Linked DNA regions of Homo sapiens. The protein of the gene in region 1 purifies or fractionates together with the protein of each later gene. This does not show direct contact. Each region holds a gene or a part of one and is shown on either strand. Other genes may lie near its edges. The genes, in order: SLC43A2, ERGIC1 and EPB41L1.

Region 1 (3,652 bases):
ACTTGAGGATGTTGTTCATAGCCCCCATGTAGAAGATGAGCCGCAGCTGCGTGACGCACATGGTGACCAGGCTGAGCAGCAGGATGGGGCTGAACACGCTGTGCATGAAGGAGGGGGCCACTGCAGGGAGAGGGTGCGGGGCTCAGGGCCGGGGCACACTGTCCCCACCACCGGGGGGACACGCAGATCCCTCCACGCTGGAGGCCAGGAGGGGGCCCTCGGGACGGGCCTGGTGAGGGTAACGGGGTTGGCGCTGCGGTGGGGTCACCTCTTGGGTGAAATCAGGCAAATCCCTTTCCCTCCCCCAGGCCTTCCTGAGCGCCTCTGCAGAACAGGGCGGGCGGGGCCGCCTCCCCTTTTGGGGTGAGGTGGGAATGGGGTGAGCCGATACCCACAGAGCACTCCCTGCCCGTCGCCCGGCTGCGGTCTCAGGCGGGTACCTGCGGCATCCGGCTGGCACTTCACCTCCAGGTCGACGGTGGACAGGCACAGCTTGTGGCCCTCCTGCAGCGCCACCTGCTCCTTGGCACTCCTCATGGAGCTGCCCACACTCAGGCGCCGGCCCACCGTGGTCACCTGCTTGTAGAACTGCTTCCCTGTGATCTTGTGGTCAAAGCCCAGCCAGCTGAACTTGATCTTCACCCTGGGGCCCCGGGAGAGTGTCTGTGGGTGCTGCCCGGGACCCCGGCTGGGGGGCGGGGGCTGGGGGCAGGCGGGACGGGGGCACCTCTACTTACGAGTAGTCCATGTCCTCCGGCCCCGGGAAGGGCTCAAGGGGCCAGTTAAAGAAGCAGTTGAGGAAAACCAGCCCGGAGCAGCCGGCCCAGACCACGAGGACGACGATGAAGGAGACACCAGCATCATAGATGAGCTGACAGGCACCGCGGGGACGGGGTGGGGGGGGGAGGGGGCAGAGTTAGCCCGGGGAGGCCAGAGCCGCAGCAGGCAGGGGCGTCTGGCCACCCCTGCTGTCCCTGTGCTGAGCCGCGCAAAGAGGCACAGCCCTGCCAGCCTGGGCGTTGGGGCATCAGGCACCCGCCTTCCAGTCCTCCCACCGTGCCTGCCCTGCTGGTCATCTGGGCCTGGCGTGTGATTAGCCCCCCGACTCGGAGGCCTTCCTGACCGCCCCGCCATGACCACGGCACGTCTTGCAGGCTCATAGTGATCGGCCCAGCAGAGGGGACGGTGCTCCTGGTCCGTCGGCTTGTCTGGTATTAGCGGAGCTCCCTGAAGGCGGGAACCGGCCAGCCCCGTCCACTGATGCTTCCCCAGTGCCTCTGAGAGCTCACATGGCAGAGGCCAAAGAAATGCTCAAGGAAGCCAGGCATGGTGGCTCACGCCTGTAATCCCAGCACTTTGGGAGGCCAAAGTGGGCGGATCATGAGGTCAGGAGTTCCAGGCCAGCCTGACCAACATGGTGAAACCCCATCTCTACTAAAAATACAAAAATTAGCCGGGCATGGTGGCGGGCACCTGTAATCCTAGCTCCTTGGGAGGCTGAGGCAGGAGAATCACTTGAACCTGGGAGGTGGAGGTTGCAGTGAGCCGAGATCGTGCTGCTGCACTCCAACCTGGGCGACAGAGCAAGACCCTGTTCCCCCCCAAAAAAAGGAGGAGGAAGAACTTTCGGGATGCTCCCCAGTCCAGGGGCATGAGAATCTCTGCAAGTCCATAGGATGGCTGGCCCCAGAGTCCCAGCTCCCACCACTTCAATGCCCAGGTGGCCAGCCCACACCGTGTCCCCCTCTCCTCGCCAACAGCATTCCCACACACACCACCGAGGAAAGGGGCTTTTACTTAGTGTGAGGGTCAGAGGTGGGAGAAGCCCCTACGGGGCCCTGGCAGACCCACAGGGTCTGGGGAACTTGGGCTGATGGACTGTGAGGTGTTTGCTTCGTCCTGACCCTGTGTGACTTCCACAGGCTCAAAATCCTGCCTAGGAGGGAAACAGCTGAAACACTTGGCCAAGAGCAGTGCTTTGGCTGGCGGGGAGTAACGGTACAATAACAGCAGGCTGGGGGTTGGGGAGCAGGGGAGCAGCGGGAGACCAGGATGACGGAGGAGACGGGGGCAAGACTCACAACTGGAAACAGACTCACCCACCGCCCTTCCCCTGCCCCAGCCCCGAAATGCAAAGGCACCTGCGGCAGATCCTGCAGCCACATGCGTGATTCCCGTCCCCTGAGGCCCCGCGGTTTTCATTTGTCGCCCCTGTGATGCCCAGGTGCATCCTGCCCGGGTGGGGGTGGTGGAGAGGGGCCACCCCGGGTGCCCACAATTGCCTCCCTCTTCAGAGAGGGTGGAAGGAGCCTGGAGCAGGCCTCTGCACAGACACCAGTGCAAAATACACGTGCTCACCTTGATTCCTGGAAAGGTGACTGCCGAGGAGGCGTAGGACCCAATCATCAAGGCAATAAACGTGGACCGAAGGTCGCCGAACATGTTGGGCAGCTGAGAGATAAGAAGCAGAGAAACCTCAGTGGGGAGGATGCACCAGGGAAGGGGAGGAGGAGGGGACAGAGAACTAGGCCCCATGAGGCCCCTTCTTCACCTGCGCCCCTTCCTGTGTGACTCACAGGGGCATTAGTTCAGGGGCAATGACCGCTCACTGAAGGTTTCTCCTTCATGGACTGAGGCTGATGGGGCCAAGGAGGGAGGTAATGCAGAATACAAGCAGTTGTCTGACTTTCCGGCTGGCAACCCTCCCTATCTCTCTGCTCCTGGCAGAGCCCAGGAGCCTTCTTGTCTTTTCAGGGTAACACTGAGATGCCAGAGAACAAAGTTATGAGCCTCAGGCAGCCCTCAAAGGGAGAAAGCCTGTTAAAAATAAGAATCTATTTGGGGATAATAGCATCATTTTATAAATAAAAATATCAGCATTCCAGAAAGACCAGATGTCAGCAAAAACTGCTTTTGGTTTGGAGAGGGTAGGTTTTTGGAAGATGTCAATCAGAATTCTACAGTTCTCTTCGGTCTGAGGATGAAGCTGGCCCAGGATTCCTGCTTCTGAATTTCTTTTCTTTGTTTTGAGATGGGGTTTTGCTCTTGTTCCCCAGGCTGGAGCGCAGTGGTGTGAGCTCGGCTCGTTGCAACCTCCGCCTCCCTGGTTCAAGTGATTCTCCTGCCTCAGCCTCCCAAGTCGCGAGATTAGAGATGCCCGCCACCATGCCTGGCTAATTTTTGTATTTTTAGTAGAGACGGGGTTTCACCATGTTGGCCAGGCTGATCTCAAGTGATCCGCCCGCCTCGGCCTCCCAAAGTGCTGGGACTACAGGCGTGAGCCACCGCGCCCGGCCTCCTGCTTCTGAATTTCTCAGTACAAGCAGGGGATTATCTTCCCACAGGATGTTCGGCCCGAGCAGTTAGCATCCTGGAAGGCCAACGGGAAGCAAGGTCCGGGCTCTCTTCCCAACGAAGCCACTCTCGGCATCTCACATCAGCTCATTCTGGGTACAGGGCAAGAGGGGGCCCACCTGAACAGGACTTCAAGGCTAACTCTTGCTCATTCTACCGAAATCCAGGCCTAGGGCAAACTACATCCTCCCAAAGAGGCACAGGTTCTCTAACCTCAAGAGACATCACACTGTGTGTAGCAAACCTTTCCTGTCCACACCCAGCGTCCCTGGCCTTGGGGGCTGCCCTCTGGATAGCC
Region 2 (3,652 bases), on another chromosome or scaffold:
ATCTTGTTAAAATACAAATTCAGATTCCAGGTGGGCACTGAGATTCTCCACTTCCAACAAGCTCCAAGGTGCTGCTGAAGCTGGCATCTGGGACTGCACTTTGAAGAGCAAGGTTATTAGTAGAAAGTTACGGCCCCTTACTGTCCACTTCACTGGTGGGGTAACAGAGTTGCCGAAGGTCATGCAGGAGTGATGGGTGGGACGGGAACTCCACGCCCCAGCCTCCCGAGGCAAGGCTCTCCACCGCCACCCGACCTGGCTCCCCTGCTGCTCTCAGCCCTGCTTGCTATTGCTTCTCCCAATTCAGAGCACTTCTCCTCCGTCTTGGCTGTGCATTAGAATCACATGAGAGACTTTAATATACAGCCAGGGTTGAGGCTCACTGATTTAGATGTACCGGGTAAGCCTCACCCCAAATACCCTCTTCACACCCTGCCTGTCTCTCCCACGCCTGACAAAAACTGGCTAGGAGTAACTCCAAATAAAATACGAAAGGATTACCAGATGGGGAATGTAACTTAACCAGGACACAGCTGGCTAAAGCCCTGTCTCCTGCTACTACAGCACCACAGTCAGGAATCCAAACGGCCTTGGGAGGAGAGGACATTCCATCTCATTCCATGTCCCCGCGAGCAGGTAAACATGATGCTCTAAGCTGGAAAACCCCCACTGGTCAGCGTGGGAAAACTGAGCCCCTCGAGGGTGATGCCATTAGCTGGTGTGAGGGTCTTTAAAGACCATTTCAGAATCAGGTATCACGCTACATGAGGCTAGGGGGAAAAAAGTTGATGGCTTTAAGCTTCTTAATGAGCACTGTTGGGTGAGGATTAGTGAAGAGAAACCCAATGAATCCAATTAGAAGAGTTCTCAGTTCTCTCTGAATTTAGTGAATGGAAAAGAGAAAGCTTTAGAGATGAGCCTACAGGACACAGTGGAGCTCTGGTGCCAAATGGCAGTGTTCCAATCCCAGCTCCAGGAACGGGAACGACCGTGTTTCCGAACTCTGTGGCACCTCCACTGGCTCACCTGTAAAGTGGGGTAACAACAGCACCTCCCTTGTAGGACTGTGGAGAATTAAAGGGGCTGATACAGTAAGATCCTTACAACAGTGCCTGGCACTAGCAAATGTTCAATAAACCCGAAATACTGGCCTTTTCACATAATTTTCTCTCTGGTCTAATTTTTATTTTCTTTTTGCCCTGATTTTTAAGGCTATATGTGTATGTGTATGTGTGTGTATGTGTGTGTGTGTGTATGTGTGTGTGTGTTTTGAGATAGGGTCTTGCTCTGTTACCCAGTGTGGAATGCAATGGCATGAACATGGCTCACTGAAGCCTCCACCTCCTGGGCTCAAGAGATCCTTCCACCTCAGCCTCCCAAGAAGCTGGGACCACAGACGCACATCACCACACCTGGCCATTTTTTTTTCCCCATAGAGATGGGGTCTGGGGTCTTGCTATGTTGACCAGCTTGGTCTTGAACTCCTGCAATCCTCAAGCAATCCTCCCACTTTGGCCTCCCAAAGTACTGGGATTACAGGTGTGAGCTACCACACCTGGCCCATATATATATACTTTTTTTTTTTTTTTTTTTTGAGACAGAGTCTCGCTCTGTTGGCCAGGCTGGAGTACAGTGGCAAGATCTCAGTTCACTGCAACCTCCGTCTCCCGGGCTCAAGCAATTCTCCTGCCTCAGCCTCCCGAGGAGCTGGGATTACAGGTATGTACCATCAAGCCCGGCTGATTTTTGTATTTTTATTAGAGACGGGGTTTCACCATGTTGGCCAGGCTGGTCTCAAACTCCTGACCTCAGGTAATCCGCCCACCTCAGCCTCCCAAAGTGCTGGGATTACAGGCATGAGCCACAGCGCTCATTTTATATTTTTTAAAACTTGCTGTAAAGTATATGTTCTTGTCAGCTTCCTTGGAATTCTTTCTGGAAGAAACAGCAGGGTAGAAATACAGGCATTCATGTTAGCTACTCTCTGCTGAATGTTAACTCTGTGCTCAGAGGTCCCTGTGGTGGCTGAGGCTTAGCTTGGTGTAGGAACTGATGGGGCTACCAGGGTCCCATTCCCTATTGGGGCCTAAGGAATTAAGACTGGGCCAGGTGCAGTGGCTCATGCCTGTGATCTTAGCACTTTGGGAGGCCAAGGAAGGAGGATGACTTGAGGCCAGGAGTTCAAGAACAACCTGGCCAACATAGCAAGACCCCATCTCTATATAATTTTTTTTTAAAAAGGAATTCACACTGGATCCTTAGAGCAATGAGACCCATTTGAAGGTTGAAATCAGGACATGAAAATATCAGATCAACTTTGGAAAGCTCACTAGGGAGTCCTGAGGAGGTCTGGGGTATCCTGGAGGGAGAAAGACCACTCAGAAGGCCAGAGTGAAAAATGGTAGAGGCCAAACCAAGGCCCTGCAGCAGGGCCAGCCCCATCAGGGCCGCATGACCTGTGCAGGCACACAGGGTCACACACTCAGAGGGGGGTCCATGCTTGGCTGAATGCGCTGCTGCTGCCGTCCTGAAATTCTTAATACTTTTTCAACAAGGGACTCCACATTTTCATTTTGCACTGGGCCCCACAAATTATGGGCCTCATCCTGCATTGCAAGTTGCATTGCACATTGATCCTGCAAGTGTGCATTGATCACACTTGCCCCTACATCTACTCTACCAGGTGAGGCAGCGAAGTTTACATCCCCTCCTTAAAATGAAGAAATGGAGGCTCCGAGAGGGGAAGTCAATGGTCCCAGAGCACATCTGGTCAGTGCCAGTGCAGCGGCACCCCCGAGGCCTTGGGTTTTCAACATGGGGGCTGTCACTGTGGGACAGCAGCCACCTGCACCTCCCGGAAGGCAGTGCTCAGGCACCACTGGGCCTGGGCACAGGGCTTCCGGATGCTGTTATCTTCCCTCCTCACCCACCCTGGGCTGGTGTGCAGAAGGCAGCAGGTGCTACTGGCCCCAGGCCAGCCGGAACTCGAAACAACACACACGGATGTGGGTCACAAGGCTAGTTCCACAACTGCAACAGCCAGCCATTAGTGAAACAATTTAACAAGAGCAAAGCAAACACAATAAATCATTGAAAGCTCAGCCTCCCTCCCCTGCGTTCTGCCTCCTTCCTTAACCCCAAAAACAACCTAGGAACGGCAGATTCAAGGGTGGAGAGGGGAGATTTCTCCACTAATGGCTGAAAATCTGCCCACTGAAGCTGGCATATCAAGTCACGTCATGTCTATGGCTTCCTTGACAGATTTCAAGAGGCATCTCCAAGGATCGAGTTTGGCTCAAGCACAGTTCTAGGTGCTGGAGATGCAACCTTGAAGAAGCCTGATAAAAACTTCTTGCCCTCAGGAGCTCATGTACTAATGGGAGGGAGAGAGAAGCAGCATGATAATTAAGTGAATTATATAATGTGTTAGGAGATGATGGGTGCTTAAATAAAATGACACAAATAAATATGGCGGCCAAAATGGATGAGGCGCTTACTCTGTGTCTAAATGCTTTCCGCACTGCCTCATCCCTCAACTGTTCTACTTCGGTGAGTACTCTCCTCATTCCCATTTCACAGACAGGAAAACACAGAACTCAGTTGCACCAGGCTCTACAGGCAGTAAGAAAATCAGAAGTATCCGTAGGGAAGG
Region 3 (2,932 bases), on another chromosome or scaffold:
TCCCCACCAATCAACCAATTACAAACACCACACACAGTATTACTACACTGAACCCGTCAGCCCCTACTGTGAGCCAACCCACACCCAGAGTCCAGGTCTCCTTAGCTGGGCCAGTTCAGTGAGATCTAGGAACCTCAGGATACATCAATCACAGTCAGATAATTATAATTTTAGAATGTCAGCTTCATACTTACCAGCACTGTTTATTTTAATATTTTTTCCTGTTATATGTAATATACATAACTTCAAAGCACATCCGTACAAACCTCCTACAAGCTGCACCTTCATAATGAGAAACCATAAGCATACAATGTCTACTTCCCTTCCTGTGGCTTCGTTTTCTGTTCTTGCTTTCTTTTCTTTTTCTCATTTCAAAGGAGAGTCATCTGCAGTGGCCCTCAGAAGGACCAGGACACAGAGGGTGAAGGGTGTGGGGTGGGGGAAGGGGGAAGGGGGAGGAGGGAGCCGAGACAGAAAATGACAGCAAGACATTGAGAGTTGAGGGTGAGGGGAGGCGGGAGAGAGGAAGGTAGGTTTTGCAGCCCAGTGTCAAGATCCAGAAAGTAAGAATCCAGTGTTCCTCCTCTTTCTTTCCAAGTGGGGAATTTTCTTTTTTTCTCGGAAAATGGTTGACTGTGCGTGTCTTGCTGCTGTGACTTCTCTTGCTTTGCTGTGCAAGTGTTTTCCTTTGCATTCAAGTGGGCCTTAGAGATGCTGGAGAAGAACAAATGGAATTGCTCGTCTGCTAACTGTAACGTGCAGAACCAGGGCGGGAGGGACTTCTACAATCATCGTGGTCTGGCTTGCGTTTCTTATTTGGCGGGGGAAAGGGGTGAGCAAGGGATTATAGTTATTATATAATTTTTTTTCTTGAAAAAAATCCCACCAGTTCTTCAATTTGTCTGCAAAGGAAATGTAGGTGTTCAGATGTCGGTTGTTGCTGTCAGCCAACTGCTCTGCCAGCCCCAGCAGCAGTGCAAGGATGCGGTGTTTCCTGTATATATATCTATATCTCTATATATCTATATATATATGCTTTTCCCTTCCCAGTCTCTCATCAGTGACAGTACGTCGCAGCTGGGACGTCAGTGTTGCGTCGGAGAATCCAGAATGAAGGCCCCTTCTTAATGGTTCTCTGGCTTGGGTTGGACCAGAAATGCCAGGATCTCTTCACAGAGGTCAGGATTCCTGGAAGCCAGAGGCATGGGGTAGAATGGGGGGTGGGGAGTGGGGGGAAAGGAAGGAAGAGGACAAGAAAAATTAGTAACTTCTGTCACTTGTTTTAAAATACATGGCAAGAGGTTGTTTTTGCTACCCTTTACCATATGCCCTTTATTGTGACTCAGCAAGGTAGAGTGACTTGCACCTGTAATCCCAGCTACTTGGGAGGCTGAGGTGGAAGGATCTCTTGAGGTGAGAAACTCAAGGCTGTAATGTGTAATCATCATGCCTGTGAGTAGCTATTGCACTCCAAGGCCACGCAGCTTGTGTGTGGCAGCAGAGAACCGAACCCACATCTGTTGGATTCCAGAGCCCATGTGTGTTTGCTCGCTTGTTTCCAGGGAGGTGGTAATCTTTTACTTTGGCCTGACAATGTGTTAAAATGTCCTTTAACACCGAGAAGCTAAGATCATCATCATTTTACTTTTTCTTCCTATCTTGTCAGCTCTAAGAAATGTTTAGTCACGATTGCAGATGTTCTTTTTTCATTTGGTTTTCCTTTCTGTTGTCCGTGGGCTTGCTGTGTCCTGGAGATTAAACCACAGACAGCAGTGTTTAAATAAAGAAATGAAGTCTGGATTCCAGGTTTGGCTCCAAAACTCAGTGTTTAAAGGAGCAGGCTCTGAAATCAGACTCCCTGAGTTCAAATCCCACTCTATGGGCCTGCTAGCTCTGTAATCTTGGGTGAGTTTCTTAACTTCCTTTACTTTAAACAGTTTTTAACAGACGAGTCTTACTATGTTGCTCAGGCTGGAGTGCAATAGCTATTCACAGGCACAATCAATGCACATTACAGCCTTGAATTCCTGGCTGCAAGTGATCCTTCTGCCTCAGCCTCCCAAGTAGCTGGGATTACAGGTGCACGCCACAGTGCCTGGCAAGTTTCTTAACTTCTTTAAGCCTCAATTGCTTCCTCCGTAAAATAGGTTCTGCCTCCCATTATAGGGAGGAACTGAAGCAAGGGCCCAGCATATAGTAAGTGCTGAATAAATACTGGCTGTTCTTATTATGATGATTGTTGCTGTTGTTAATTTAACCACACACTACTCTGATCTCCTTGAGGGTAAGGGCTATCTTTTAACTCTTGTCTTTCCAGTGTTCAACACTGTGCCTGGCACATAGCAACTACTCAAAACCATTTAATGGATGAAACATCATTTCTGCTACTTGCATGCAGTCGAGTGCTAACGGAATCACAGAAAATGGATCTTTCTTGGCTCATTTGACACATAGGAAAACCGAGGCCCAGAGGCTTCAGGCTTAGTAAGTTGGCAAAACCAAGACTAAAACCCAAGGTTCCTGTTTTGGAACAGGTCAATTTTTTCCCATTAAATTTTGGAAGGTTAGGAAGCTAGGCAAGTGCTGCCCTCTTGCTGGTGGTGTTTGGGAGACAGGTCCTCTCTGAAGGAGGTGGGCCAGTGGGAGAAGATGGAGCAGAAACCAGACGTCTGACCTGCAAGGTTGCAGGGAGAGAAGGGAAAAGGTTCTGTGTGACATGAGTGACTTTCCACGCTCATAGCAAGAACTTCAAGAAGGAAGAACTTTAAGAAGGAAGACAGAGTTAACTGAAGCAGGGACAGATGTTTCTGGAGGATTTGCAGAAGGAACAGAAGATGAAGACCAGTAAGACAAACACCCTCATGGAGACAGGGCCTCAGGCACCAGGCTGGTGGTGGAGAATTACGATCTGACTTTCTCAGTACTCTCATCA

What was found.
Region 2: the proteins of SLC43A2 (region 1) and ERGIC1 purify together in Homo sapiens (affinity purification with mass spectrometry; one large-scale study listed by BioGRID and IntAct). This does not show direct contact.
Region 3: the proteins of SLC43A2 (region 1) and EPB41L1 purify together in Homo sapiens (affinity purification with mass spectrometry; one large-scale study listed by BioGRID and IntAct). This does not show direct contact.

Annotation. Positions count from the first base shown.
Region 1 is NC_000017.11:1,590,829-1,594,480, forward strand, and holds part of SLC43A2 (large neutral amino acids transporter small subunit 4), read right to left. Parts: intron 2,452-3,652; coding exon 2,359-2,451; intron 872-2,358; coding exon 738-871; intron 644-737; coding exon 441-643; intron 121-440; coding exon 1-120.
Region 2 is NC_000005.10:172,837,183-172,840,834, reverse strand, and holds part of ERGIC1 (endoplasmic reticulum-Golgi intermediate compartment protein 1), read right to left. Parts: intron 3,486-3,652; exon of another isoform or gene 3,262-3,485; intron 637-3,261; exon of another isoform or gene 1-636. UniProt on the Homo sapiens protein: Possible role in transport between endoplasmic reticulum and Golgi.
Region 3 is NC_000020.11:36,227,588-36,230,519, reverse strand, and holds part of EPB41L1 (band 4.1-like protein 1), read right to left. Parts: intron 1,189-2,932; coding exon 1,180-1,188; 3' UTR 1-1,179. UniProt on the Homo sapiens protein: May function to confer stability and plasticity to neuronal membrane via multiple interactions, including the spectrin-actin-based cytoskeleton, integral membrane channels and membrane-associated guanylate kinases.